4 separate regions of the Homo sapiens genome follow, and regions 1, 3 and 4 are each reported to be linked to region 2. Evidence: microRNA targets listed by miRTarBase, many of them from high-throughput screens and not tested one by one. Region 2 holds a microRNA gene; each other region holds the end of a gene's coding sequence.
What was found. The annotated mature microRNA hsa-miR-186-3p reads GCCCAAAGGUGAAUUUUUUGGG and lies in region 2 at 3,802-3,823, opposite strand. An mRNA with a match to its seed (bases 2 to 7 or 8) in the 3' UTR can be bound and repressed. Matches are read on the target gene's strand: a 7mer-m8 pairs with bases 2 to 8, a 7mer-A1 pairs with bases 2 to 7 and ends in A, and an 8mer does both.

Region 1 (7,117 bases), not on the chromosome of region 2:
TGTCAGTAGGCTGTTCACTGATTCTTAAGGAAGTTACAAGATATATTTCATTGGAAGGAATTGTAAAATGACTACAATAATCAGTACTATGCAGGACTACCTTTTATATTTGTGCATTACTTTTGAATTTTGTTCAACATGATCAATATTACATGTTAGGATCATTCAGATGTAGTGAATGAGAGTTTATAGTGGTTTACTTATTTAAATATTTGACTTTTAAGTTCCTCACAATATATTTTTTTCTTTTTTCTCCTGTCAGATGGATAGTGGCTATAATACGCAGAATTGTGGAAGCAATATTATGGATACAGTTGGGGCAGAAAGTTACTGCAAAGAAAGTGATGCACAAACATGTGAAGTTGAGAGTAAATCTCAAGCATTTAATATGAAGGTACGGAGAAAATATAGTGAAAGCTTAATATTGTTTAGATTAGAAATATAAAATAATTTTGATTATTAGACAATAGTACTATTGAGAAACTATATGAAATTTAAAACACTAAAAGGTAAGCCTGTTTTCTTAACATCCAATAACCTTTAAATATTTTGGTTACTCTGAATACACAAGTATCTTACATACTACAAAGTGTGCAAAGGTAGCGTGTATTTGATGAGGGCATTTACTGAACCTTCCAGGTGGTGGTTATATATTCATACTTGAAGAAACTCATCATAATTTCAGGCACTAGTCAGGACAGTCTTTAATTTTATGTGCCAATTTTTTTTGCATTTTATTTTTTTGTAGAGACAGGGCCTGCTGTGTTGCCCAGGCTGGTCTCAAACTCCTGGTGTCAAGCAGTCTTTCTGCCTCAGCCTCGCAAAGTGCTGCGCGATTACAGGCATGAGCCAACATGCCCAGCCTTGTATGCCGTTTCTTTTTTTTCTTTTTTTTTTTTTTTGAGACAGGGTCTTACTCTGTCACCCGGGCTGGAGTGCAGTCGTAGAATCAGATCACTACAGCCTTTAACTGCTGGGCTCAAGCAATCCTCCTGCCTCACCCTCCTGAGTAGCTAGAACTACAGGTGTGAACCACCTTGCCCTGCTGTTATATGCCAGTTTCTTATAAAATACTATAAATATCAGCAAATGTGCAACAAATGTTTAATAGGGAGGCCACCTTAGTTTTCCTTTCTGTTGTATGTAGTAGGAGCAAACTGCCTTTCTGTTGTATGTAGTATCAGAGCAGGTCTCTTCTAATATTAACCTGAACAAAATCCATCCTATTTCAGGATGCAGTTGTCTATCTAAACATAAGTAGAGATAAATGAAGGATTTTTTTAAATTTTATTATTTTATTTTTTTTGAGACAAGGTCTCATTCTGTCACCCAGGCTAGAGTGTAGTGGCACGACCACAGCTCACTGTAGCCTTCACCTCCCAGACTCAAGCAGTCTTACCACCTCAGCCTCCTGAGTAGCTAGGGCTACAGGCATGTGCCACCACACCCAGCTTTTTAAAATTTTTGGTAGAGACAGGGTCTCACTATGTTGCCAGGGCTAGTCCCAAACTCCTGGGCTCGTGCGATCCTCCCACCTTGGCCTCTCAAAGTGTTGGGATGCTTTTTGATGCAGAATATTGATTTATAAAATACTGTATCTTTACTGTCCCTTCAGAGTTCAGCTAAAGAAACGTGCTTTTAGGTTTTAAAAACAGTCCCGATAATTGCATCCTCCAGTGGTCCTACTTAAACTGAAAACAAGGTATTGTCTTCTTTTTCACAGCAAGACCACACAACACAGAGGTGTTGGATGAAAACAGCAAGCCCTTTTCAATGCAGCAGTCCATAGAATGCCTCTGTCAGAATCAAAGACTAAGCTTAAGAGTTCCTCGCATATATCGTTGTGCACAGGATCAACATGATGGTGACTGGGAAAAAATTACTTCAAGTAACATGCTTAGCTTTCCCTCCTTAATGTGAAAAATCAAGGGCTTACTGACATAGGAACAACAGAAATGCTCCTGGAACTTCAAGTTGCTGAATTATAAGTTTATTTTTTATCAATAAATATTTTTATACTTACATTGAGTGATGTGTTTAACAACAAATTGTGACAGAGCTGAGTGCTCCTATCTTACAGGGTCAATGAACTACTTATTAAGCCTTACTGGTAGCACTGAATTTAGCAGTTCTGAGAACATGTGAAACTATGTTAAAACTGAAGGCACTATATATTTTTACATAAAAGCTTGAACATACAGATGAATTATAACCTATGTGAAGAAATCTTAGATATAAAACTAACTTTTCAAAGATACAAAAGAAATTAAACAGGTTTCCTGAAATTTTAGTTCTTGGTCTGTTCACCTCTGTGGGGAAAATTCTTAGTTCCAGTGATAACTGTTCTAGTTACTACTTTTAAGTATGTAAATACTAGAAAGGTAGTACTAGTGACATCATCACGTGTATTGTTATCTATGGGGCAAATGTGTGGTGCCCAGAATAAAATATACCTCATGCCTAGGGTAGGGACATCCTTTCCAGCTCAAACGTGGGTAGGGATGTGGGAGAATAAGAATGTGGGAGAACCAAGAGAAAAAGTGGGGCTGGGAGAGTGGAGTTCCCGTAGGGCATAGGCCTGTGAAGTAACACTGGGGCAGATATGTATGTTATATACAACTATTTTTTTAAAAAACTTATATCCATGTTGGGAGTAGATGGGTATATAACAGTTTGGAAATACTATCTTTGGAGAATGTATTTTTGTATTTATAAATCAACTTTTAAAAACTGTCTCATTCAAAAGGGAATAAAGACCTGTGTTATCAATGTGTCATTTTCTTCTTTCCTCCATAACTGTACCTTGAAACCTTACTGCTGACCTGCAGAAAATGTGCCGCGTTATGTACCTGGCTCATCTTCAACACACTAACCATGAACACTAATAGCCATTAGGGGACATGGCTACAGATACTACATTGGAAAGTTGTCTTTAATCACACAGGTGTTAAACTCAATATAAATTTACCTAAAAACAATTGCTATACCTAAAAGGAGTTCTGGGTACTAAGGGTAGAAGCCTCACTGGCTACAGTTTTTTAATAGTACAAAAGTCAAGAAATAACACAATAGTGACTATAACCTGTATTCAAATCCCTACTCTGTCACTACTTGATCTGGGCTGATATGGTATGGCTCTGTGTCCTCACCCAAATCTAACCTTGAATTGTAGCAATCCCCACGTGTCAAGGGTGGGACCAGGTGGAGGTAACTGGATCATGGGGGCGGTTTCCTCCATGCTGTTCCTGTGATAGTGAGCCGGTCTCATGAGATCTGAAGGTTTTATAAGCGTCTGGCATTTCCACTGCTGGCAGTCATTTTCATCCTGCCGCCCTGTGAAAAAGGTGCCTGCTTCTCCTTTTTCTGCCATGATTGTGTAAGTGTCCTGAGGCCTCACCAGCAATGCGGAACTGAGTCCATTAAACCTCTTTCCTTTATAATAATTACCCAGTTTGGGGTATTTCTTCGTAGCAGTGTGAGAACAGACCATAAACCTCCATTTTCTCATCTGTTAAATGGAGATAACAGTCCTGGCTTAACAGGGCTTTTTGAGTTAAGTGATATATTCCACGTAACCTGCTTAGCATAAGAACTGGCACTAGAAACAGAACATTTTAGATTATGGAATAGAACTTAGGGGAAAATAGCAAAGTCTCTGATCATCTTGAACTACTCAATTGGGACTTATCCCTGAATTAAACCTTTCTAGTAGCTGAAGCACAAGAAAATAAACTTGGAAAGAAAAAACCTAAGGCCAGTCATGCACTGCCCTACTTCCCTTTCTTCTCTATTGCAGGTTAACTATGGCCTGTAGGCAGTTTTTCTTCTCTTTTTTTTTTTTTGAGACAGTCTTGTTCTGTCACCCAGGCTGGAGTGCAGTGGCGCGATCTTGGCTCACTGCAACCTCTGCCTCCCAGGTTCAAGCGATTCTCCTGCCTCAGCCTCCTGAGGTGGGATTAAAGGCACTTGCCACCACACCTGGCTAATTTTCTTTTCTTTTTTTTTTTTTTTTTTTGCGATGGAGTCTCACTCTCATCATCCAGGCTGAACTGCAGTGGTGCAATCTCGGCTCACTGCAACTTCCGCCTCCCAGGTTCAAGCGATTCTCCTGCCTCAGCCTCCCAAGTAGCTGGGATTACAGGCATCCGCCGTTACACCCAGCTAAGTTTTTGTATTTTTAGTAGAGACGGCGTTTTACCATGTTGGCCAGGCTGGTCTCAAACTCCTGACATCGAGTGATCCACCCGCCTCGTCCTCCCAAAATGCTAGGATTACAGGCATGAGCCACCGCACCTAGCCGGCAAACTTTTTTAAATGGTTGGCGGGGGTGGGGGAAATCAAATGAGTAATGTTTTGTGACACATCAAAATTATAATGATGTGCTGCATAACTTTTGGTCAACAATGGCCAAATATACGATGATGATCCCGTAAGATTACAATGGAGCTGAAAAATTCCTATTGCCTGGGGACACAGCCATGGTAACATCATAGTGAAATTACTTTATGTAGCCTAAGTATATAGTGTTTATAAAAGTCTACAGTAGTGCACAGTAATATCATGGCCTTCACATTCACTAACCACTTACTGACTCACCCAGAGCCAGCTTCCAGTCCTGCCAACTTGTTCATGGTAAATGTCCTAAATAGGTGTACCATTTTATATCTTATATATATCTATATATATATTTTTACTGTACCTTTTCTATGTTTAGATATGTTTAGATACACAAATACTTAGCACTGTGTTACAACCGCCTACAGTAATCAGTACAGTAATATGCCATACAGGTTTGTAGGTTAGGAGCAATAGGCTATCCCATATAGGATACCATAGGGTATACCATCTAGGTTTGTGTAACTACATCATGATTTTCACACAATGATGAAATTGCCAAGTGACATGTCTCAGAACATATCCCTGTCATTAAGTGACATATGACTATATATGAAACTTAACAAATCAGGCCTTGTTGAAACACAGTCATGTTGATTTGTTTACATATTGTATATGGCTCCTTACACACTATCAACGGCAGAGTTGTGTACTATAGTTGCAATACAGACCATAGCCAACAAAGTCTAAAATGTTCTAGCACTTCACAGAAAAGGTTTTTTGACTCCTACTCTACTGTTTCAGTGTCACTGACCCATTTTACCTGGACCAAAGACTACTCAAGTCTATTTTCCTCCAACTGACACAAGTTTCTGCCTCAGTGTATGGAGGTTTTCCTCAGTAATAGGAAACTGGAAAAATTAGTCAACATTTATTGAGTGCCTAAATGACTACCTATTTAGTATACCTGCTGATTTACTTGGCAGGCTTTTCTCACTATACTGCAAGCTCCTTGAAGGCAGAGATAATTTACTTGAGTGGAACCTGGCACAACGTAAGTGCTTTAGAAATTGAATAAGCCAAGTAAAATGTTTTAAGGCAACCCTATCCCAAAATATTCCTGAAGATATTAATTTAATCATTACTAATCTCTGTGATTAGCAAGGGAAGTAGTCAGTCTGGCACACCAAATTTTATTAATAATACTTATTTTAATCTGTTCCCTTTAGTATGTCTTTATACAGTTCCCCTCGTGTATATACACTGATATAACTACAATTTAAAAGCCACTAATTAATCTGTTTTTTATTTTGTAAGTAACAAGATATAGACATTTGAATGCCAATGTCTTATTCTGGAGAGACACTGGAGCTGAAGTTCAACAATGATCACACTTATTACCTGGCAATAAAAACACAACCATCTTTCCAGTCAGGTCAAAATATCCTACTTTTTGCCTTTCTACCAATTCCCAAACATTCACAGTTTTTCAAGGACCACTAATAAAATACAGGAAGCTTTTAAAGACAGTAAGAGAACACCTAGTGTAAGTTAGGTGAATTAAAGATGGCAAAGGAGATTACATCCTCAACACTGACAGCTTCCAAGACTTAGAAAAGAGATTGTTCCTTGCTTCTAAAATTGTTCTATTTTCCTCTGTAGGAAAATGAAAGTTTTTTCTTACAAATATTAAATAATCAAAGTACTTACGCAAAATTAATCTGCTCCTCAATGAGATGAGCACTCCATTTAAATGATCTTTACAGATCCCTGAAGTTGCTGTCCTGTCACTGTATTTAAGTGATGGATATTCAATTGAATTATTCTGCATAAATAATTCTGTTCAACCCAGAAGTATAGTAGTATGATGGGTCAGATACAGTCAACTGTTCAATAAAAATGCAGATGTCTGAAATTATTAAAATGTACTTAAAAGTAACAAACTGTATCACACACTTAGGCTTAGAAGTGTTCTTTCAAGTTTTTTCTTTTAAAAAAGAAACCAGTCTTTGAAGATTTTTGTTGAATATAGCTATTTTCCAAGCTTCATCTTCTTTTTCTTTGGTCCATTAAGGTCCATGTTTGAAGTATCAGTAGGAATGCTTATTCCTGGTATCTAAAGTAATGCAAATGGGGGGAAATAAGGTGATTTAAAGGATAGAATACATCTCAACCTCATCCTCCCCTTCCCCACTGCCAGCTTCAAATTTAAAAGGATGTAGTGGTAGGGAGGGGAAAGGGGGCTAATTAAAGGTTTTATACACAGAAGGTATTTTACAAAGTAGCAGTGGTTCAAAAATGTAAAAGCTAGACATGGTCTCAACAGGTGAGAAGCATGTCATTTAGGAAGTGTTCTTTTTAACTACAAAACAGCCTTCCCAATGGGGAGCCACTGTGATTGACAGAATCAGAGTTGATTTCAAGTGTGTTGGGGAAGGACAAAAGTTAAGAACCAGTATCTTAGGTGAAACACCTACACTTCATCTTCAAAATGCAGAGTTCAAAACTTCTAGATAGAAAAGACTAGGCAGGAGAATGGAAGACCTTTTTATTTTAGCACCAAAGACCTGAACAGAATCTCAGATGTCTAGAATCCCGTGGCCTAAAGAAATCAGTGAGAAAACAGGATTTGCTATGCAAATATTTGGTTTCTACACTACTTACAGGGTTCCCTCTAACATTAAACAGAAATAACTACGTCCCTTCTTTGACAAAATATGTACTGTTTGTTCCATCACAACAAGGAAATTTTAAGTTTGGCCTTACCTGTGGTTCTACCAGG
Region 2 (7,116 bases):
GACAATGTTACGGAAAAAAAACAAGAAATCAATATCCCATAACAAAAAGCCCCCAAGCACAACTGTTGATTTCCTTTGATATACTTACCTTGCATTGTCACTGGAAATACTGTTAAGAGAAACCTTTTTATTTTTTAAACCAGAAAACAAACTAAAGCTCATGTGACCAGATTTTAATTTTGAGAAATAAACTCCAAAAGCATTTTAAGCCATAACTTATTTCAAATGAATAGGAAAAATAATGACTTTTGCTTACATCATGCAGCAATAAGCATTCATTTGTTATTCAGAAGAAAATTGTATGCAGTGTGTTTATAGTTAACATCTTGAGGCAAATGTTCACTTAAATTCACAATGTCTCCATTGGCCTTTCACCAAAAGAGAAATATACTTTAAAAGCTTACTTCAATTTGCTCATTAAGTATGATTTAGCCTTTTCTACCATATTATATTTGGTAACTACATTTGGAAGAATATCACACAAAGCTTCTTAAAACATTGGTAAACATTTTGAGATGTCTTTATCAAGCAACCGTATCAGCAGAGAAAAGATAAACTCTTAAGACTTTCTTTTTTGCCCCAAATTATGTGTCAGAAAGGAAAATATATCCCACTTCTCTCCTTGTAGACATCACAAGATTCTTTTGCATTAAATGTGGAGCAAAAAAGTAAAGCTGGATAAAAGAGACACAATGATTCTAAGGCACCCTTAGCATAGGGAATTTCAAAATAGACATTTACAGTTGGCTGCTTACAACATAGTTTAACTTTTTTTGGTGAGAATCACTCTGACATCTGTTAACAGCATAAAAAGGCTGACTTTCTTTTCCATAAGTATGTTGTTTCCAACTAGTTTCCAGTCTTTCTTCCATGCCCAAAGTTCAGGCAAGCCTAGGTAATCCTGTCTTAGCCAATGGACAGGATGTATTTGGAAATGACAAAAATGGGTTTAAATTAGGAAGCAAAGTACTTTGTTATAGCTGAAATGGTTTTAAATGAAGCAAATGGTTGTAAATAATGAATGACAGAACATCTATTTTGGGACATTATGGCTTAAAATGCTATTTACTTTTAACTTCACAAATAAACACAGCTGTATTGTTTTGAAAAGCAATGAAAGGCATGCACCTCTACTAGCAGATTTAGCACTTCTGACCAAGTAAGACACCAACTTCTTTAAAAATATGCTTCATGCACTGTACTGGATTTTTTTAAGATGTAAATTTTAATACATTATTTCTTTTTTGAACTTGAACGGGAACCAGAATGGGATGATCCAGATGATGACCTGTGGCGTCTGTAAGACATAATGGAGAGAGTAGGCATTCTAGTAAGCTAGAGCTAAATCTCAGCATTCATTCTTAAGACTGTGAAAGTATACAAAATTCAGTACCATGATGCTAGCAAAAAAATTAAAAATTGAGATAGGAACTTACACACATAAAATTATCTGATGTTTAGACTTTGGATATGAGCCCAGTTATCATATAAATACAATAAAAAATTCTCTACAATTTCAAAAGAATCTCATTTCAAAATATAGCCACCTCTCAATTATTTAAGATATCAAAGAAAAGCCTTGCAAAAATGTGTAAAATTACAGAAAATGTACAACAAAAGCATATAAACTTGGTAATGGAAGTGTGACTAAACCAATCCCTGTGACACGGTGTAGAAAGTGTAAGAAGTCTATTATGTAAAAAAGATACAGCAAGGCTTCTGTGTATGAGAAAATATACTCATAAATAAGTTTTGGAAATCTAGGTCACACAAGATGATTGTACAATTTGCTATAGGGTTATATTCATGCAGCTAGTATGAATAAGTCAATATCAACCTGGGTAAAGTAGTGGTGTTCCGTAGGGGTTGGCCCTGGGCTCAGGGTTGTTTAGTGTTTTCACCAATCACCTGGCTTATGGAATAGAGAACATGTTCATTAAGTTTAGATGACAACAAACTAGGGGGATTATATGTGGCTAAGATAAAAATTTGCAGAAGTGGTAAGAAAGCAACAGAATGAATTCCACTCAAAAACAGAGTAATTTTTTTTACAAAGAAACAAATGCAGAGAAACAAGACTGTGTGAAATCTTAACATCTAAACTCCAAAATGTGAAGAAGCAAAACTAATCATTCTGTACAAGTAGGAATCATGAGATAATCCTACCACTGAACCCAGCAATTAATAGACTTTACATAATCTTTATTTTCACAAGCTAATAAAATATGAAAAATTTGCAAAGACTACAAATAAAGCCATTAAAATGACTATATAATTGGGAACAAAGAGAAAATTAATGAAACTGAGTAATTAGCCTGTTGCAGAAAAGGCTGACAGATGACAGTTGCATTCTTCCAATATTAAAAGTGTCAGTACAGATAAAGTAACCTAATATAGGCCTTTCTCAAAAAAGATTTGGACTGCAAAATGAAAAATGTATTAGCTACAAGGAATAATTTCCTTATAGACAAAGGGCATGAAGCAATTTGCTGTGGAAATGCATTTACACATATTTAAATGAGGACAGATTCCCAATGATCTGAAAGTTAATTTTTTATTAGATGCTCTAGAATTCTTGACTATTAGTATTTAAAGAAGCCTAAGTATAAAAGTCAACTCATAAATTACTTCGACATACAGCTTCTGAATTGCAATCTCAAAAGACAGAAATAACCGAGAGTTGGCTATAAAAATTATAAATGGAACTAAAAATTTAAACAATAAAATGATCAAAGAATGGTTTGATCTACAATTCTAAACAACCTGATCAAAGTACAAAGGATAAGCAAAGTAATGTTTTTTTGAAGTTCAAAGTTGAAAAGTAGAAAGTCGGAACACAAGAGATAATAAAAATCTAACCCTTGACTAGGAAAGTTTACTTTATCTATTAAACACACTTAAGAACACCCATTCTTATTTCTACAGAAACCCAAACCTTTCGGGTGACCGTGATCTTGTTCGTCTTTTTTTGCGATCACCAGATGAAGAAGATCTAGAACGACTTCTCTTTCTGTTCCTCTCAGGAGAAGATGATGAACTTGAATAAGATCTTTTTCGTGGGGAAGAAGAGCCCCTGTGGGACCTGGAGCTGGATCTTCATTGATTGAGAAACAAATCAAACATTTCATTAAAAGAAGAAATAAGGAAGATTATTTAGTTATCAGATAGCTCCAAAAATAAACAGGATTTATAACAACTATGAAAATTTTATAAGGAAGAATACTTACTGCTTATTCAACAGAAGACTTCTGGATCAACCATGAAAACATTCTACTTAAACATTTTAATTTTGTCTCTTTAAAATTCTATCATGTGTAATTAAAACCCTGCTTACTATATCAAAATAGAATTTAAACTTTTTTTAAGGCTTTTCAAAGTATACACAAATATTATAGTATTATAAAATCAGCAGATAACTGCATTAACAGGACTTTACGTTTAGGAACTACATCCTTCCATTTGAGGATTAAAATATGTATCTTATATACCACTTCCTGAGGAAAATAAACATAATTCCATGTGGAATTATTCAACTCATTAAACTGTTATGGAAAAACCAGGTATATGGCACAGCAACAAAAGACTAGTAACTGTACTTAACTGCTAAATATTCAAGAAGAAATAAAAACTAACTTTAAGATGATTTATATTTACAATACTATTTTTATGAAAACCCACTACTTATGAAATATGAAGTGTTGACATTCACATGCTTCAGGTAGAAGTAAATGTGCAAATGTTTAAATACAAATTTTTTTTCTTCACTTGTATATTTTGGTTGAAGGAATTTAGCTCAAACTTCCCAAAAAATTCACCTTTGGGCTTAAAATAAAACCAGAAAGCCCAAAAGGAGAATTCTTTGGAAAGTTACAAGCAATGAAAAAATGTTTGGGAAGAATATGATGGGTGTTCTGTAAACCTTAATTATAATGGTTCCCAAAGGGAATACCAGAACTTAAGGATTTTTACCTATAAAGCGCTTAAATATTGTTACTAAATAATGGTAACAATAAAAAATAATTTGCTCTCTACTTCTATTTTTTTTTTTTTTTTTGAGACAGGATCTTGCTCTGTTCCCCAGGCTGTGGTGCAGTAGCATAAGCATGGCTCACTGCACCCTTAATCTCCAGGGCTCCAGTGATCCTTCCACCTCAGCCTATAAGAACACACCACCATGCCTGGCTGGTTGTTTTAATTTTTATTTTTAGTAGACGAGGTCTCACTATATTGCCCAGGCTGGTCTTGAACTCCTGGGCTCAAGCAGCCCGCCCACCTTGGCCTCCCAAGGTATTGGGATTACAGGCGTGAGCCACTGAGCCTGGCCTTGTTATCTATTTCTTATTGGCTTATAATGCAAGTGTGCACAACATTCTTTTCTCCTTAACATGATTATACTGTGGCAGCCCTTTAATGCTAAATTTGATTCAAAGCAGCAAATACTTTTACCAAAACAGCCACAGTTAGACTTCAATATGAATTTCCACAAATATGGAATTTCATTTTCTTATTTATTTTTTAGATGCCTTTAGGTCATAATAAATTAACTTAAAAACAAAGAGAGCATATTTTGACTAAACAAAGAAAAATTTCCTGCAAGAGCATCTTTCAAATTATGTTTCCCTCTACAGATGTGACTACATGCAACCTGAAACTTTAGAACACTGTTTACTACTTAAGACCACATCCTATCTCAACTAACCGACTATACTTCCTGATTTAGTTTTGAGTGTTTTGTGCTCTATAAATAATAGCGTGTGTAAAATTAGAAAGGAAAATGTATATACAGTACTCTAGTAACTTTATCTGATATAAATGGCAAATTTGTTTCTGAAAATATTGAAACAACTGCCGTGCAAAACAGGACCTGTTTTGAGGCAGGGTTATTTTTCTTCCTTTTAATAATGAAGAAAATTTTTCTTTTTATTTACATATGTAATTTTATTTGAACTACTATTAATTTTTTTTTTTTTTGAGACACTCCTCTGTCACCCAGGCTGGATTACAGTGCTGTGATCAAGGTTCACTACAACCTTGAACTCCTGGCCTCAAGTGATCCTCCCACCTCAGCTTCCCAAAGTGCTGGGATTATAGGCATGAATCACTGTGCCTGGCCATATATAATCTTAATATACTAGAGATGTGGCGATAAGACTTGGCTTCATCTTCCTACTTCATAACATCTTAGTGCCAAAATAATAAACGCTGCATATTGCAAAATAGCCACCTGATTTCAATCATGGGAATGTCTTGGCACACTGCTGGCAATGGAAACATTTCATGGTGAGAAAATTAAGCTGAGGCAAGTGCATTAGTTTTCTAATGCTAAAATAAAATCGACAAGTAGAAGCAAAATAAGGGGAAAAAAAGCAGCAACACCTTCTGCAGCCTTTAAATATTTTTCTCTCTGCTTTACAGAGAGATGCTACCTCATTCACCTTGATTTCGACCCACGAGATCTCGAACGTTCTCTGGAACTGGAACGAGATCTTGACTGCGAACTGGAAGAACTTCTTGAACGGGACCTGGAACAACATGGAACGATTTTTTTTTTCCAGGACCATTTAATTGAGCTTTGTGATATGAACACTGAAAGAAAGATATGTATTAGAGTTCATTTTCATATAAAAAGATAACTATACAAGATATATACTTTCAAAACATAGTATTTTAAATTAGATAAGATTTAGTAACAAAAGGTAATTAAAAAAATATCACTTTCCAGGTGATTAAATTACCCTAAAGCCACTCAACTATAAAACAAAACATTATCACTTTATTACAAAAACAATGAATACTTTGTTTACAAGTAACTAGAAGCTACCCAGAATACATCCAAGAAAACAGAATGTTGCGATTTATACTTAATTTCTCTAAAATGTCTCCATCATTTTCCTTTATAAATCCCCTTCTATTTTTGTTTCTAGTTAGTACAAAGTTTTGAATGTTGGCATGTGTGTATTTCATCCCTATATTTTTCTGTTTACTCAATGCTTAGAGAATTAAAGGGAAAATGTATAATTCTGTCATTGTTAGGTAATTATATTATTGGAAAATATGACACAAGGGAGACATGGTTCGTACAAATTTTAAAACTCACAAAATTCATTAATCTAATTTACAACTATAATTTGTCCCTTATAATAATACCCTGTAGAAAAAGATCACTATATTTTTACCAAAAAATTACTAGTTATAGCCCCACTTTGTTAAGCTTTCAGGCTTTGTAGTGCTCAATTAACATATATCTAATTGTTATACACTAATATCTAGTATTTTATTCCTAAATATGATTAAAATTCATTGCCCATGCCATCACTTAACTGTGATTAAGGTTTTTCAAGAGGACACTGTTAAATTTAAATCACTGCTTTCACTCACCTAAAATTTTATTTTTATTGTTAACTATAAAATCAGAGATTACATATTTTACATCAACAAACAATATTCAAGTACACCAAAAGAGTTTTAGTTTACGCCTGGACTTCTCAAAATTATGAGCATGAAGTCAACAGAACTAATATGGCTGAATTTGCTCCGTTATTCACAATACTGATATCAAAGCAAACTATTAAAAACATTATGTAATAAGCAATGATTTAATGCCTAGAAAATTTCTGTGCTAGCCTTTAACATCTTGAATGAAAATACAGATCTCCCCTTTACTTAATTTCTATATGTAAGCTATCTCTTTAGATTAATTAAATATAAGTGTATATAAAAATTTAATTCAGTTTTTAAGTCTATTTTAGTCAAAAGCATGAGGCTAAAATAGGTTAAGGAAGTTTCATGCTAAGACTTTACTTTTCTAAAAATACTGGACAACAACTGTATGGTACTAAGCTGAAAAATTATTTTAAAAGTTGATTTGAATTAAATTTTTAAAATAAAAAGGAAAGTTTATTTCGTCAAGAAAAACAAAATTTATAAATAAAAAAGTTAGATACTGACATTTTGACTGGTGTTACCCTTGACCTGTACCCGTTTACCTGGACCTAGACCTTGAACTTGAGGGGGAGGATGAGCGTGATGAAGATCGTGAATGTGAAGATCGAGACTTTGAGCGACTTCGTCTATTAGATTTCTTTTTATTACTATCTTCTTCTTCACTGGCATCAA
Region 3 (7,103 bases), not on the chromosome of region 2:
TCCTGTCTTCTTCTTTAAGATAGGGTCTCACTGTATTGCCCAGGCTGGAGTGCAGTGGTGCAGTCATAGCTCACTGCACCCTCGATCTCATGGGCTCAAGCGATTTTCCTGCCTCAGCCTCCTGAGAAGCTGCATGCCACCACCGTGACTGGCTAATTTAAAAAAGAAATTTGTAGAAATTAAAACAACAACATGGTGGTGTGCACCTGTAGTCCCAGCTACTCGGGAGGCTGAGGCATGAGAATCACTTGATCCTGGGAGGCAGAGGTTGCAGTGAGCCGAGATGGTGTCACTGCACTCCAGCAACCGAGATGGTGTCATTGCACTCCAGCCTGGGCAGCAGAGACTCCATCGCAAAAAAAAAAAAAAAAGGAAATTAAAAAAAAATTTTTTTTAAACCTCAAAGATTACAGGCATAAGCCACTGCACCTGGACCTTCATGTACCTCTTTGCTCTTACATGGACTTCCTGTAGCCCTAATGCACTTCCTGTCTTCCCCTTCTACTTCCTGTCTTCCTCTTGCATTTCTGAGGACCCCTTACTAGCTGCTTCTACCTCCAACTCCAAGCACCATCTGCCCTCAGGCCTAGGGTTGTTGGCACCCACAGCCCTTCCCCTCAGCATCCTCTTTCCTGGCCTTAGCCCACACTCACCTTCTCGGTGTCCTCCTTCTTCACCTGCTTGAGGTGGGCCCGCAGGTCCAGGGACTCCTTAGCCCGGGCCCCCAGCAGCGCCTGCATCATGGCATCTGCAGAGATCCTCACTCTCCGCAGGGTGGGCCGCTTAAACTTGCCTCGAAGGTCAAAGATCTTCTGAGTCAGATCTGCAATCTGGGGGCACACGAGGGGGTGGGTACTTCTCCTTCCATTTCCCGCACACCCAACTCCTCCATCCTACACTCCTTTTTTATTCTCCTTATCTCGTCTTCCAGTACCGAGGCCTTACCAGTCTCTTCCCGGCTTAGGCTCCCAGTCTAGGCTTCTAATCCTGGAACTGAATCCCCCTCCTCATATGCTCCAGCCTCACCTCTCAAAACCACTGGCATAACCTGGTCCAGCTACATGCAAATCACAATTCCCTGGCCAGTGCCTGAGCTAATTTACCAACATGTGATGCCCTGAGCATGTTCACTAACTTATTTTCTGTTTCCCAACCCATGGCCTTGCATGTGCTGTTCCCTCTGCCTAGAACAGCTTTCCTTGACTATATTGTACTCATCCTTCTGCCCCAGCCCTGCCAGGCTCACAGTTGTCCTGGGTCTCCTGGGATGTGCAGCCAAAAGCAGCTGCAAGGGGTCAGGCAGAGACCAAGTCCCAGCCATCTCACCCTACCCCGAAGGTACCCGAGCTGCCCATGCGTCCCACCTCCGTGATGTTCTTGGTGACTTTTGCCTCTATGTCGTATCTCTCTTCATCCACCTTGTCCACACGGGCGTGGAGCTGTCGGCACAAGTCCTGGAGGAGGAACGTGGTGTGTGTTGTTGGGGGAACCAAAAACAGGGAGACCTGGACTCCTGGGTCTGAGGGAGAAGGGGCTCGGGGCCTGGACTCCTGGGTCTGAGGGAGGAGAAGGGGCTGGGGGCCTGGACTCCTGGGTCTGAGGGAGGAGTTGGGGGCCTGGACTCCTGGGTTTGAGGGAGGAGAAGGGGCTGGGGGCCTGGACTCCTGGGTCTGAGGGAGGAGGGGCTGAGGGCCTCGATTCCAGGGTCTGAGGGAGGAGGGGCTGGGGACTGGACTCCTGGGTCTGAGGGAGGAGGGGCTGGGGACTGGACTCCTGGGTCTGAGGGAGGAGGGGCTGGGGCCTGGACTTCAGGGTCTGAGGGAGGAGGGGCTGGGGACTGGACTCCTGGGTCTGAGGGAGGAGGGGCTGGGGCCTGGACTCCAGGGTCTGAGGGAGGAGGGGCTGGGGCCTGGACTCCAGGGTCTGAGGGAGGAGGAGCTGGGGCCTGGACTCCAGGGTCTGAGGGAGGAGGGGCTGGGGCCTGGACTCCAGGGTCTGAGGGAGGAGAGGCTGGGGCCTGGACTCCAGGGTCTCAGGGAGGAGAGGCTGGGGCCTGGACTCCAGGGTCTGAGGGAGGAGGGGCTGGGGCCTGGACTCCAGGGTCTGAGGGAGGAGGGGCTGGGGACTGGACTCCTGGGTCTGAGGGAGGAGGGGCTGGGGCCTGGACTTCAGGGTCTGAGGGAGGAGGGGCTGGGGCCTGGACTTCAGGGTCTGAGGGAGGAGGGGCTGGGGCCTGGACTTCAGGGTCTGAGGGAGGAGGGGCTGAGGGCCTCGATTCCAGGGTCTGAGGGAGGAGGGGCTGGGGACTGGACTCCTGGGTCTGAGGGAGGAGGGGCTGGGGCCTGGACTCCAGGGTCTGAGGGAGGAGGGGCTGGGGGCCTGGACTCCAGGGTCTGAGGGAGGAGGGGCTGGGGCCTGGACTCCAGGGTCTGAGGGAGGAGGGGCTGGGGCCTGGACTCCAGGGTCTGAGGGAGGAGGGGCTGGGGCCTGGACTTCAGGGTCTCAGGGAGGAGGGGCTGGGGACTGGACTCCTGGGTCTGAGGGAGGAGGGGCTGGGGCCTGGACTCCAGGGTCTGAGGGAGGAGGGGCTGGGGCTTGGGCTTCTGTCTGGGATAGGAGGGCCACATGGTCCTGAAGGAGTAGGTTGGAGCCAAGACTCCACAGACCTGCACACAAAGGGTGTTAGGGGCCAGGAGTCCCACGAACCATATATAATTGGGTAAGGACAGCCATATTGGACGCCTGGGTCCCGAGCAGAAGAGGGGATAGAGGCTGTACTGCTGAATTCCGGGACTAGAAACCTCGCATCCTTGGGAGCCGGTACCTGCAGCTCCGCGAAGCCCAGCCCGGCCAACTCCAGCGGCTGGCAGCGGGTGCTCAGAGCGCGCCCCTTCTCTCCGCGCCGCTCCTCCGCCTCTCGCTCCAGCTCTTGCTTTGCAATCTGCAGCAGCAGAGTCTGCAGAGGGGTGGGAGGGAAGCGCAGCCCACCCGGGGCTTCAGGATAAAGACCAGGCGTGGGGAACCGCCTCTGCCCTTCTAAACCCTCCAGTTTGGTCTCCACTGTTCCAAGGCCCCGTCCCACCCCGAGCAGTACTCCCCGCTAAAGCCACGCCCCGAGCGGCCAAACCCCGCCCACTTCCGCCCACCTACCCCGAAAGCCCCACCCATTCTCAAGCTCCGCCCCCTGAGCACCTGCCTGCTCTTTCCCAGTCCCGCCCGTCCTCACCTTCAGCTGCAATTTTCTCGAGGCGGAGATCTTAGATTTTTTCTGCCAGGGTGAGATGGAGCAAGGAAGGATCATGGAGGGGGATTCGGAGACGACGGTGGAGGGGACCTCAAGACACCCCCAGCAAACCCAGCCGGTCCAGATTTGGGCCCACGTCCAACTTGAGCCCTGAGTCTACGGGAGGCCACGCCCCTCATTCCCATCCACCAATCTGGGTCTCTTCCTTTGGATAGGCACTTCCCATCTATCCCTAAGCAAGTCCGAGGGCAACGGAGTTCCGCCCGCAGGCTGCTGTCACCAATCCGAGCATGACCCTCTGCAAAACTCCGCCCCTGAAGCCCCTCCGCGTAGTCCCCGCCCCCTTCGCAGCCCTGGCTCCTCCCCCCACTCCCAGGGTCTTGGATCCCTCCGGCGCCTGTACTCTGCCCCCAGGAAGCCCCGTCCCACCTTGGCGTGCGGCTCCGTGGCATAAGCGCGGTAGTTGGAGGAGCGGCGTCTGATTGGGGCTGGTGCAGGGCGAGGTTCCCTAGCCTGGGTTAGGAGGAGTGGGGACCCCATCACCACCAAGACCCCACCCAGCCCTTACCGTACCGCACCCTCTGCTAGGGCTGCAGCCTCCCGCCCCAGACCCCTCACTGCAGCGCCCACCCTGGCCCTGGGGGTCCCAGCCACGCCTTAGCCCGCTGCTCTCACCGCATCGCTGCTCCTGGAAGGAGAGAAACCAAGGAGGGGGGTTAGTGGTGGGCTGTGTCCTGTCTCCTAAGGGACCCCTGGAGTCCCCTCTGAACAAGAGGTCGGGGGACCGCGCTTCCCCTTCCTTGGGTTCCAGGAGTCTGACTCGCAAACCCACTTCCTCTCTTCACCCAAGAGTCCCTACGCCTACCTCGCAGGCCAAGGGTCCAGCCTCTCAGCTGCGACCCCTCTTGGGAACCCGGGAGGTCGCCCCCAACTCCCACTGCCTTGGGGCATCACTCACCCATCCGCCATGCTGAGACTCAGGCCGGGAATGGCAGGAGGCAGGGCGAGGACAGGGGCGTTTGGAGGGTCAGTGAGGGGGCCGCCCGGGTGACCTTCAGGGTCCCAGGGACCGTCAGTCTCCTCCGGGCTGCTTGAGACTCCCCGAGGACACTGAGATAAAGGGCGAGGACACAGACTAAATATACTGTCACCTCCTCCTCCCCCTGCCCACTATGCCAGATAACGGGGGCGCGTGAGGGGCGGGGTGGGCCCTGCTCCAGCTGGATCACCAGCCACCTCCGGGCACAGGAATCCGGACCCTCCTCCCTCTGATCCTGGAGTCCTAGACCCCTCCTCCCTCAGACCCAGAGAATGCCCGACCTCCCAACCTCCTCCTCCCTCAGTCCCAGGACCCTGGGAGACCCTGGCCACTCCCTCACACAAGGAGTCCAGGCCCCCAGCCCCCTTTTCCCTCAGACTCAAGTGTCTGGGCCCCCAGCTCCTCTTCCCTCAGACCCAAGAGTCCAGGCCCCCAGCCCCTCCTCCCTCAGACCCAAGAGTCCAGGCCCCCAGCTCCTCTTCCCTCAGACCCAAGAGTCCAGGCCCCAGCCCCTCCTCCCTCAGACCCAAGAGTCCAGGCCCCAGCCCCTCCTCCCTCAGACCCAGGAGTCCAGGCCCCCAGCCCCTCCTCCCTCAGACCCAGGGGTCCAGGCCCCCAGCCCCTCCCTCAGACAAGGGAGTCCAGGCAGGCCCCCAGCACACTTCCTCTCTCAGACTCAAGAGTCTGCACCCTCAGCTCCTCCTCCCTCAGACCAGGAGTCCAGGACCCCAATCCCTCTCCCCTCAGACCGAGGAGTCCAGGACCCCAATCCCTCTCCCCTCAGACCCAGGAGTCCAGGCCACTCAATAAATGTTGTTGATTAATTTGAGGATGCAGCTGTGCTCGGGGCTAGCTCTCAGTCAATAGCACTGGGAAATCCATCCCTCGTCCACTTGGAAACCCAGGAATCTGGTTTCTGGCTTCCTCTGTCCAGCACTCCTGGGCCTTTCTCTCCCAGCCCTGGAGACGGACATAGGACAGGAAAGACGCTTGGACACACAGAAGGGTGGACACAACTTGCTTTACTTGAACCATCTGGGTGCTGACCAGGCCCTGGTGAGGAGACACCCCAGCCCCTAGTCAGCCACAGGGTGCCTGGGAACAAGGGGGCCAAAGTCAAGGGCCTGAGACTCAGTGTCAGATCCTAGGCTGGGCTTAGAGCCTCAGAAGTGGAATTTGGAATTCTGAGAGAACAATCTAGAATTCTAGGAATAGACCATAGAATCTCAGAAATGGAATTTGAAAGTCTACCAACACTCCCGGGGTGGGGGTGGCGGGTACTGAGTGGGAATGATTAGAATAAAATTGAGGACTCTAGCAGCGGACTTAGAATGGTATCAGCGGGTTCTCATCCTACAACCTGACTTTGGAAGTTGGAGATAAGGGGTGTCTAGGGGTTGGGTCAGACTCCAGTTTTGGAGTCTGACTCACAGTTGGGCGGAGCCAAGGCCCCCTGAGGCTGAGCCAGAACCTCTGAGAGTGAACCTGGAGACTCAGAGGGCAGCTGGCAGGGCTCACAGTGTGGGGTCCCACCCTGCAGAGGCTGGGTCAGGCCCTCAAGGGCTGGGTTGCTGGCTTCAAGAGGCTGGGCCAGGATGTCAAGGGGCGGAGTTCCGGGTTCCACAGCTGGGACAGTGTTGCCCAGAGCTGATTCCTGGGACTTGCAGAAACGTGCGAAGGTCTCTGAAGGCCTGGCCCCGGTCTGTGGAGCAAATCCAGCTGCCTGAGCTAGCTCCCTGACCCGGGTGTTGAATCCCTGCAGCTGCTCCTGCCGCACGTCCACCAGGTACCTGCAGATGGGAAGCGCCCTGTCAGGGACCCAGATTTTGATCCCCAGCCAGGATGTTCCCCACCCTCCACCCCACTGACTCACCGGGCTAATTCCACAATCAAGTTCCCTCCGGGTGCCACACAGGCCCCAAGCTCAGGGATGAGAAGATGGACCATACTGCAGAGAGGACGGAGGACAGGCTGAGATTCAGCTCCAAATCCGGAGGGAGGATGGGGCTCTGGGATCCCAGACAATGAGGGAGGAGGGGTGGCAAAACTGGAGTCTGGGTCCTGGGGAAAGAAGGGAGCAGGAGGTCTGGACTCCTGGGTCTGAGGGAGGAGGGGCTGGGGGCCTGGACCCCTGGGTCTAAGCAAGGAGGGGCTGGGGGCCTGGACTCCTGGGTCTGAGGGAGGAGGGGCTGGGGGCCTGATCCTGGGTCTTTGTGAGCACAGCTGCCTCCCCGCTTACCCACAGGCCACATAGAGGAGCTGGAATCGGCCGTTGTAGCAGCTCTTGTGGTGGAGAGTCTGAGCAGAATTGAGCGGCAGGAAGTGGACGGTGAAAGATTCCGGGGTCGGGGCTGCTGGGGGAAGGGGATAGAGGGGTCACCTCTGACAGGCGGAGCCATAAGGGCGGAAAACCAGAGAGATACACAGAGCTGGGCAGAGCTGGGCAGGCACACAGGACTTGGAGATAACACTTTTTGTCCTCTTGCAGCTTTTTAAAAAATCCTCTAAGGTAGGCTCCTGGAAAGTTCTGGGAAGGTCAGCCTGGCAGGCAGAGACTCACTGTACAGATCAGGCAACTGAGACTCTAGAGAGGGAAAGAGGGTGGGTGGCCAGGGCCACATGTGACATGCCCTGTCAGACAGACACGCAGGGAGGGCCAGGTTGGAGGATGGCTGGAAGGAGGCCCAGCCAGGATCCAGGGTGTGGGAGGCTGTCCAAGGGGGAGCTGGGACCCAGCACCCTGTGAGAATATTCTTGGATAGCTTAGCCCTCTGCAGATAAGATTAGAATTCTGCTAGTGGAATTCAGAATTCTAAGCAT
Region 4 (7,117 bases), not on the chromosome of region 2:
CACTCCAGGAGTCCCAAAGAGGTGACTTCCTCCAGGTGCTTATCATTCACCCCCAGGCCTTCCAGGCCAGATGCAGCTCAGTCAGCTTTACCAGAAGTAGCATTGCTCAGGGACACCACTGCCCTTCCACATCTATTGGGAACAGAGCTAGGAGAAGGGGAACCCAAGGTTGATTTCCTATGGAGGAGAAGGGTGTGGCTTATGCTTAAGTCAACACATTACCTTATTTCATTTTGTGGAAAGGGAGCATTAGGAGAGTAGAGACAGACAAGTCTGCACGACTCATCACACCTGAGTTCATGTTGGACCTTGGCATTGAAGGACATGCCTTCTGTGAGACGGAAAGCGGCTTATGTAGCCCAGCCCATTCCTCCTGGGGTAGCAGGGCTCCTCCCTGGGTTGGGACATCTGGATAAAGGAATCCCAGTACCTCCCCTCCCTTGCTCTGTGACCGCTGAAAGATCATATCACCTCTCCAAGCCTCAGTTTTCTCCTCTGTAAAATGAGGATGACATTGCCTTCCACATGGGGCTGCTTTGAGGATTCAGGGGCTATAATGTGTGATGGAATCCATGGTTCATGGAGAGGCCCAAGAGCTACCTGTGCAACCGCAACTAGGCGAGGACGCAGTACGAGCATACTGTGTCCGTGGGCCACAGCTCCTCCCTGCAGGTGGAGCTCGAGATCCCGTTCCCAGGCCGCCTGCTCCCTGGCTGTGTGCTGTTCTATATGCTGATGACCATCATGATTCCTTCATGTAGCGCAAGCCACCATGGAGATGGCAGCGAGCAATGGGCTTAGGGCTGGGCACAGGCTGGCCCTCAGGCCCCACCCACTGTCCTGGACAGCTCATTTCCAAGGGTTCCAGGGATGCAGGACGTTCCAGGGATGCAGCTCATTCCCAAGGGTTCCAGGGATGCACCCATGCAGGGCTGGCTCTTCCTGCAGATGTGCGGGGTTTGTGCTCCCTGATCACCTCTCCATCACTGCAGATGTCCTGCGCTTCGACAACACCTACAGCCGGATGCATGCCAAGAAGCTCAGCTACACTGTGGAGGTGCTGCTTCCCGACAAGGCCTCTGAGGAGACGCTGCAGAGTCTCAAGGCGATGAGACCCTCCCCAACACAGTGAAGACCCCAGCCACCTCTACCTGTGCACTCCAACCCCTTCACACCCACCCCTCTGACCCCTGCCTTCCCAGGCAGGGTGGTGCTGGAGGTGGCTGCAGAGAGCCACTTGTCCCACGTCACCATTTCATCTCATTGTAGGCTCACCTGGCACAGTGGCCAAGCAGGAAGGGGCCACCAGTGCATAGCCCATGCTGAAGATTCAGACAGGAACCTCTTTCCCTGTTCCCAGAGAATGCGGCTGAGAATGAGAACGCTGAAGATGATCCAGTCCACTGAGGATGGGTCCTGCTTGCAGAAGCTGCCCTTTCACCCATCTTGACAAGATCCAGCCACCCAGGACTCACCCATGCCTGGTGTTCCAGCTTCAGGGGGTGTGCGTGGTTCCTAGGTCCTGTGGACATCACAGCTTCAGGCCTGAAGAGCAGAGAAGCCCTGTTCTCTGCATGTAGGAGGTCAGCAGGGGTGGGCAGGCCCAGCTGGAGGCAGCTGGGTGAGGGTCCTGGTTCCAGCAGAGCACTGGGGCCCATCCAAGTTTGTTCTGCCACCACTGGATGGAAAATTGGAAATGGACTGGGCGTGGTGGCTCACGCCTATAATCCCAGCAGTTTGGGAGGCTGAGTTGGGCAGATCACCTGAGATCAGGAGTTCGGGACCAGCCTGGGCAACATGGTGAAACCCTGTCTCTACTAAAAATACAAAAATTAGCCGGGCATGGTGGCGTGCACCTGTAATCCCAGCTACTCAGGAGGCTGAGGCAGGAGAATCGCTTGTACCCAGGAGGCGGAGGTTGTAGTGAGCTGAGATCGTGCCACTGCACTCCAGCCTGGGCAACAGAGCCAGACTCCGTCTCTAAACAAACAAACAAACAAACAAACAAATAAAGAAAGAACATTGGACATGGAGAGGTGGGGCCTGGCATGGGTAACCATCAGAGGAAAAAGCCATGCTCAGCCTTCCAGTTGAGTGGGTAACGACTGAGTCTCCAGGGAATTCCCAGTGACCTCCCCTCCACACCTGCTGTGATCCTGCCAACATTTAGCTTTGGTTCTCTTGGCAGCTGCACCATTCATGGGTGCATATACGTAGAGTCTGAACAGGTGCTCTGCTGCTAGAAACAGCAAACCATCTAGATTAAACTCCTAAAGCCAGTGCCACGAGGCATTCCTGTTCCAACTGGGTGTTTGAGCAGATTGGCAAAAAAAAAAAAAAAAAAAAAAATGGCTGCGCTGGCTCCAAGGAGATGGCCTGGGCTGTCGGGCAAGAGTCACAGGACATCCCCATGTCCAGGGGCTGCCTCTGCATCGGAGATGTGACAGGCATCCCCACTACCCTGTTGCACTGCATGGCCACGCTGTCTGCTGCTTTCCCAGATGCAGTGATATTTGGAGTGCCCAGAGGCACTTGGGCTTCCATGGCAGGCTGTGGCCAACTGGAGCCGGGAGGACCTGTGCTAAATTTCACAAGGCCCACCGGTTGTCATGATGGGGGATTGTAATGCCTCACTTCAGCTTTGACATCCTCTGCCTTGATGTCCTCTGCCTAAAAACCAGGGGTTCCTAGACTTGAACTCTGATTCTTGCCCATGTAACTACAGCCGATTTTCCATCAGCACAGCCTTGTCTGGTTTCCTTGCAGGCAGCAAGGATTGCTCTGCCCCATGCACAAGTGTTTCCTGAGACTCTGATCACAGGGCCGTGATCACAAATACGGGCTGGCTGCGGGGGTGGCAAACAAAAATGGGGTCAGGTGCAGGCACTAGTGACTGAATTGCAGTGAGCAGTGATCGCCTGCAGAGGTGAGAGCAGAATCTCCTACCAATTCAGGAGGGGAGGGGCACACTGGGAGCTCAGCAGGGAGCAGGGGCACATGTCCTCAGCAACCCATTTCCAATTATTTTTTTTCTTTTCTTTTCTGAGATAGAGTCTCTGTTGCCTAGACTGGAGTACAGTGGCGCGATCTCAGCTCACTACAACATTCACCTCCCAGGTTCAAGCGATTCTCCCACCTCAGCCTCCCGAGTAGCTGGGACTACAGACATGCACCACCACACCTGGCTGATTTTTGTATTTTTAGTAGAGATGGGGTTTCACCATGTTGGCCAGGCTGATCTCAAACCCCTGACCTCAAGTGATCTGCCTGGCTCAGCCTCCCAAAGTGCTGGGATTACAGGTATGAGCCACCATGCCTGGCCTCCATGTCTAATTTTTAACACTGTCACTTTTTTACAAAACTGAAAAAAAAAAGTCACCCAGAGAGGGGCAGTGGCTTGCCCAAAGTTTGTTTCTTCATTTATTCACTCATTGATATTAATTTAATTTAATTTAATTTTTTAAAAGTAGAGACAGGCCGGGCGCGGTGGCTCACGCCTGTAATCCCAGCACTTTGGGAGGCCGAGGCGGGCAGATCACGAGATCAGGAGATGGAGACCATCCTGGCTAACACGGTGAAACCCTGTCTCTACTAAAAATACAAAAAATTAGCTGGGCGTGATGGCGGGCACCTGTAGTCCCAGCTACTCGAGGGGCTGAGGCAGGAGAATGACGTGAATCTGGAGGCGGAGCTTGCAGTGAGGCGAGATCACGCCACTGCACTCCAGCCTGGGCGACAGAGCGAGATTCCGTCTCAAAAAAAAAAAGAAAAAAAAGTAGAGACAGGGGTCTTGCTATGTTGCCCAGGCTGGTCTTGAACTTCTAGGCTCAAGCCATCCTCCCTGCCTCAGCTTCCCAAAGTGCTGAGGTCACAGGTGTGAGCCACTGAGCCCGGCCTGATTTTGGGTGTTTATTGAGTATCTGCCCAGCACCAGGCATGGCAGACTCTGGGGACACCGAGGACCCTGGGCTGACCCAACTGTATTAACCGGAGGTTTGCGCTCATGGAGGGAGGGAGGTGGAAGTGACACCAGTGATCAGTTATCAAGTGGGTGCATTGTCACCATGCATGCTTGGTTGGGGGCAGGAGCCAAACTCTGGGGGAGCACCCAGCCAAGAAACCTGACAAGGGGTCACGTATGCTTTGTCCAAGGAGGAGGTGACCCTGAAGGGAGAGCTGTCGGATGTGCGGGATGATGGCAGGCGAGCCTTCCAGACAGGAATGGGGGGTGGGCGGTCAGTGGGGCAGGGGTGTCAGAGGCCAAAGGAAAGCTGGAAGGGCTCTCCCAGCCTGGGGCAACGCTGGTAACAACTCACTGGTATTTCCTATTTCTTCATGGATAACTGTGTACACATTAAATAGTTATTAATAATTAATAAAACCATTTTATAATGCCGGTTACAAAACAGCCGTGTAGTTTGTCAGGAAAGAATGGCAAAATCTTGGCAGGAGGCCACAGATCAAAACTCTTGCTCAAAATGAGGCAATTGGAAATACCCAGGCCTCACCTGTCCAGATAATGGAGGTGGGACCTGCTCTCCCTAGCCCATCTCCTCCCTGGAAGTCCCCACAGTCTTTGGGGAGAAGCAGGTGAGGAGGGCAGCAGGTCAAGGACCCATGGGCGTGTTTTCCTTTTTTTTTTTTTTTTTTTTTGAGATAGGGTCTTACTCTGTTTCTCAGGCTGGAGTGCAGTGGCCCAGTCATAGATCACTGCAGCCTTGAACTCCGGCAAAAACCATCCTTTTGCCTCAGCATCCTGAGTAGCTGGGACCACAGGTGTGCACCACTGCACCTGGCTAATTTTTTTTTTTTGGAAATGGGGTCTCACTATGTTGCCCAGACTGGTCTCGAACTCCTGGCCTGAAGTGGTCCTCCCACCTTGGCCTCCCAAAGTGTTGGAATTACAGGCGTGAGCCACCACCCCAGGCCCCAGGGTTGCGGGTGTTTCAATGGCTGTTGGAGAGGCTCACCTGCCCCAGCCCACCTCACTGCCCAAGGAGCCCAAGCTAGGGAGGACACCACTGTAAGAAAGTCTAGGCAGGTGCTCAGAGTAGGTCTTCACCAGAGCTTCATGGCACAGCACTCCACAGTTTGCACAGCCGCTTCACATTAAGTCCTGAAGCAGACAGAGATTATAGCCCCATTTTACAGGCCAGGAAACCGAAGCTCAGCAGGGGGCAGTGCCTTGGCCAAAGCCTCTGTGTCCAGTGAACCAGTACCCAGGTCAGCTGCCGCTGGTGCCCCCAGCCTGCAGTAGGGGAGACGAGGGTTGATGGCGTGTGGGCCCCTGCAGGGAAGGCCAGTGTGGGGCAGGGGGCCACACAGTGGGACAAAGTGAGGTGCTGGGTTCCTGGGGTGGAGGGAAGGCCCAGGATTGGGAGAAAGCTGCTCAGACGTTTGTGCATCTCGGTGGGAAGTGATGGTGCCAGCTCCATGCCCAAATACCGACTGTGAGCCAGGCCCAAGCTGAGGCAGGAAGCACCATCCGCAGCCTACAGATGAGGAAAGTGAGGCTCAGGGCAGGAAGTGAATTATCACATCACACAACACAAAGCGGGAGAGGTAAGCCGTGAATCTGTGTCCATCTACCAGACCGCACACTTGGTGTGCGGGTAGGGAGGAGGCCCGGCCCAAACTGAGCGATGCTCAGGGGACTTCTGCTTTTAACCACCAGGGGGCAGTGTTGGGCCAGCCGCACCCCTGTCCACCAGGAGCGTGAACTGGGGTGGCCCTTAGCATGGGCTCATTGGAAGGTTACTTTCCAGGCCGGTTGAAGCCAAGTTCACCAGGCCCAGGCTGTTCGTGGGGCCACCTGGAGTGGCGGAAAAAGGCAGCCTGACCTCGTTTTAGATCCTGGGTCTGTCACTTGCAGGCTCCGTTTCTTTTTCTTTTTCTTTTTTTTTTGAGACAGGGTGTCACTCTGTTGCCCAGGCTGGAGTGCAGTGGTACAATCATCACTGTAGCCTCGACCTCCTGGGCTCGGGTGATCCTTCCACCTCACCTCCTGAGTAGCAGGGACTACAGGTGTGCACCACCATGTTTAGCTAATTTTTTATTTTTTGTAGAGATAGGGTTTTGTTATGAAGCCCAGGCTGGTCTTGAACTCCTGGACTCAAGCAATCCTCCCACTTTGGCCTCCCAGAGTGCTGGGGTTACAGGTGTGAGCCACCGTACCCTCTCTGTGCCCATTTCTACCCACTCCTGTCCAGATTCCGCAGGGCAGCCAGAATAAAATCTTTCTGAAATGCAAATCTGATCACATCATTCTCTGCATAAGCCCTTCTCTAGTGCCCCACGTACCCCTGGGTAAAATCAGCCTCAGTGGTAGCTTGCAAGGCCCTCTGCAACCTGGCCACTGCACCCCAGTTCCAGACACATCCCATGACTTAAATTCACCAATTCATCAAGCTCTTTCCTGCCCCTCTGCCTTTGCTCATGCTGTACCTTCAGCCTAGGACTCCCTCTCCAACCTTGTTAAATGCACGCTCAAGGGCACTGGAACCCTGTCTTGAAAGGCCTTCCCTAGGCCACACCGCCACCCAGGCCCTATCAGTTAGGGTCCCTTCCCCACACCCCAGCTGCACTTCCCAGAGGTTCCAAAAAAAAACCAGATACCATTTACTAAGCACCTGCATAAGCTTGTGGCTCTATCTATGCCACTTTGTTTAATCTTCATGGCAGCCTTATAAAATAAACATAGACCAGGTGCGGTGGCTCACACCAGTAATCCCAGCACTTTGGGAGGCCGAGGCGGGCGGATCATGAGGTCAGGAGATCGAGACCATCCTAGCCAACATGGTGAAACCCCGCCACTACTAAAAATACAAAAATTAGCTGGGCATAGTGGCACACACCTGTAATCCCAGCTACTCGGGAGGTTGAGGCAGGAGAATTGCTTGAACCGGGGAGGTGGAGGTTGCAGTGATCCGAGATCGCGCCACTGCACTCCAGCCTGGTGACAGAGTGAGACTCTGTCTTAAAATAAAATAAAATAAAATAATAAAATAAACATAATTATTCCTGTTTTACAGGAGAGGAAAGTAAGGCTCAGAAACAGACATTTGCTCAGTGGTGGCACCAGGGTTGGAACTCAGGATGTCTGACTCCAGAGACTCCA

Region 1: miRTarBase lists DIS3 as a target of hsa-miR-186-3p. Seed matches in the 3' UTR shown: 7mer-A1 at 5,805-5,811, 7mer-A1 at 5,443-5,449, 7mer-A1 at 4,256-4,262 and 7mer-A1 at 1,503-1,509.
Region 3: miRTarBase lists DNAAF3 as a target of hsa-miR-186-3p. The part of its 3' UTR that is shown has no 7-base or 8-base seed match.
Region 4: miRTarBase lists SEC14L4 as a target of hsa-miR-186-3p. Seed matches in the 3' UTR shown: 7mer-A1 at 1,737-1,743.

Annotation. Positions count from the first base shown.
Region 1 is chr13:72,753,428-72,760,544 of GRCh38, forward strand. It overlaps DIS3 (DIS3 exosome endoribonuclease and 3''-5'' exoribonuclease), which reads right to left. Exons shown (of 21, transcript NM_014953.5): 20 at 7,102-7,117; 21 at 1-6,451. The coding sequence ends at 6,368. It overlaps BORA (BORA aurora kinase A activator), which reads left to right. Exons shown (of 12, transcript NM_024808.5): 11 at 263-394; 12 at 1,724-2,769. The coding sequence ends at 1,789. Among named protein-coding and RNA genes, the nearest start is that of DIS3, 25 kb to the right of the region's middle.
Region 2 is chr1:71,063,841-71,070,956 of GRCh38, forward strand. It overlaps MIR186 (microRNA 186), which reads right to left and starts at 3,876; the gene lies at 3,791-3,876. It overlaps ZRANB2 (zinc finger RANBP2-type containing 2), which reads right to left. Exons shown (of 10, transcript NM_203350.3): 7 at 6,987-7,116; 8 at 5,436-5,522; 9 at 2,936-3,094; 10 at 1-1,297. The coding sequence ends at 1,234. It overlaps ZRANB2-AS1 (ZRANB2 antisense RNA 1), which reads left to right. Exons shown (of 3, transcript NR_038420.1): 3 at 2,926-3,344. RefSeq lists a silencer at 4,663-4,712.
Region 3 is chr19:55,153,377-55,160,479 of GRCh38, forward strand. It overlaps DNAAF3 (dynein axonemal assembly factor 3), which reads right to left. Exons shown (of 12, transcript NM_001256715.2): 10 at 6,523-6,637; 11 at 6,157-6,231; 12 at 5,289-6,073. The coding sequence ends at 5,686. TNNI3 (troponin I3, cardiac type) reads right to left here and starts at 4,356. Exons shown (of 8, transcript NM_000363.5): 1 at 4,203-4,356; 2 at 3,920-3,932; 3 at 3,674-3,757; 4 at 3,227-3,268; 5 at 2,825-2,956; 6 at 1,365-1,454; 7 at 654-830. The coding sequence starts at 4,213. It overlaps DNAAF3-AS1 (DNAAF3 antisense RNA 1), which reads left to right and starts at 5,933. Exons shown (of 4, transcript XR_007067345.1): 1 at 5,933-6,069. RefSeq lists an enhancer at 3,547-4,134.
Region 4 is chr22:30,484,122-30,491,238 of GRCh38, reverse strand. It overlaps SEC14L4 (SEC14 like lipid binding 4), which reads left to right. Exons shown (of 12, transcript NM_174977.4): 12 at 993-2,337. The coding sequence ends at 1,132. It overlaps LOC107985579 (a long non-coding RNA gene), which reads right to left. Exons shown (of 3, transcript XR_001755490.2): 3 at 4,855-5,492. Among named protein-coding and RNA genes, the nearest start is that of SEC14L3, 16 kb to the right of the region's middle.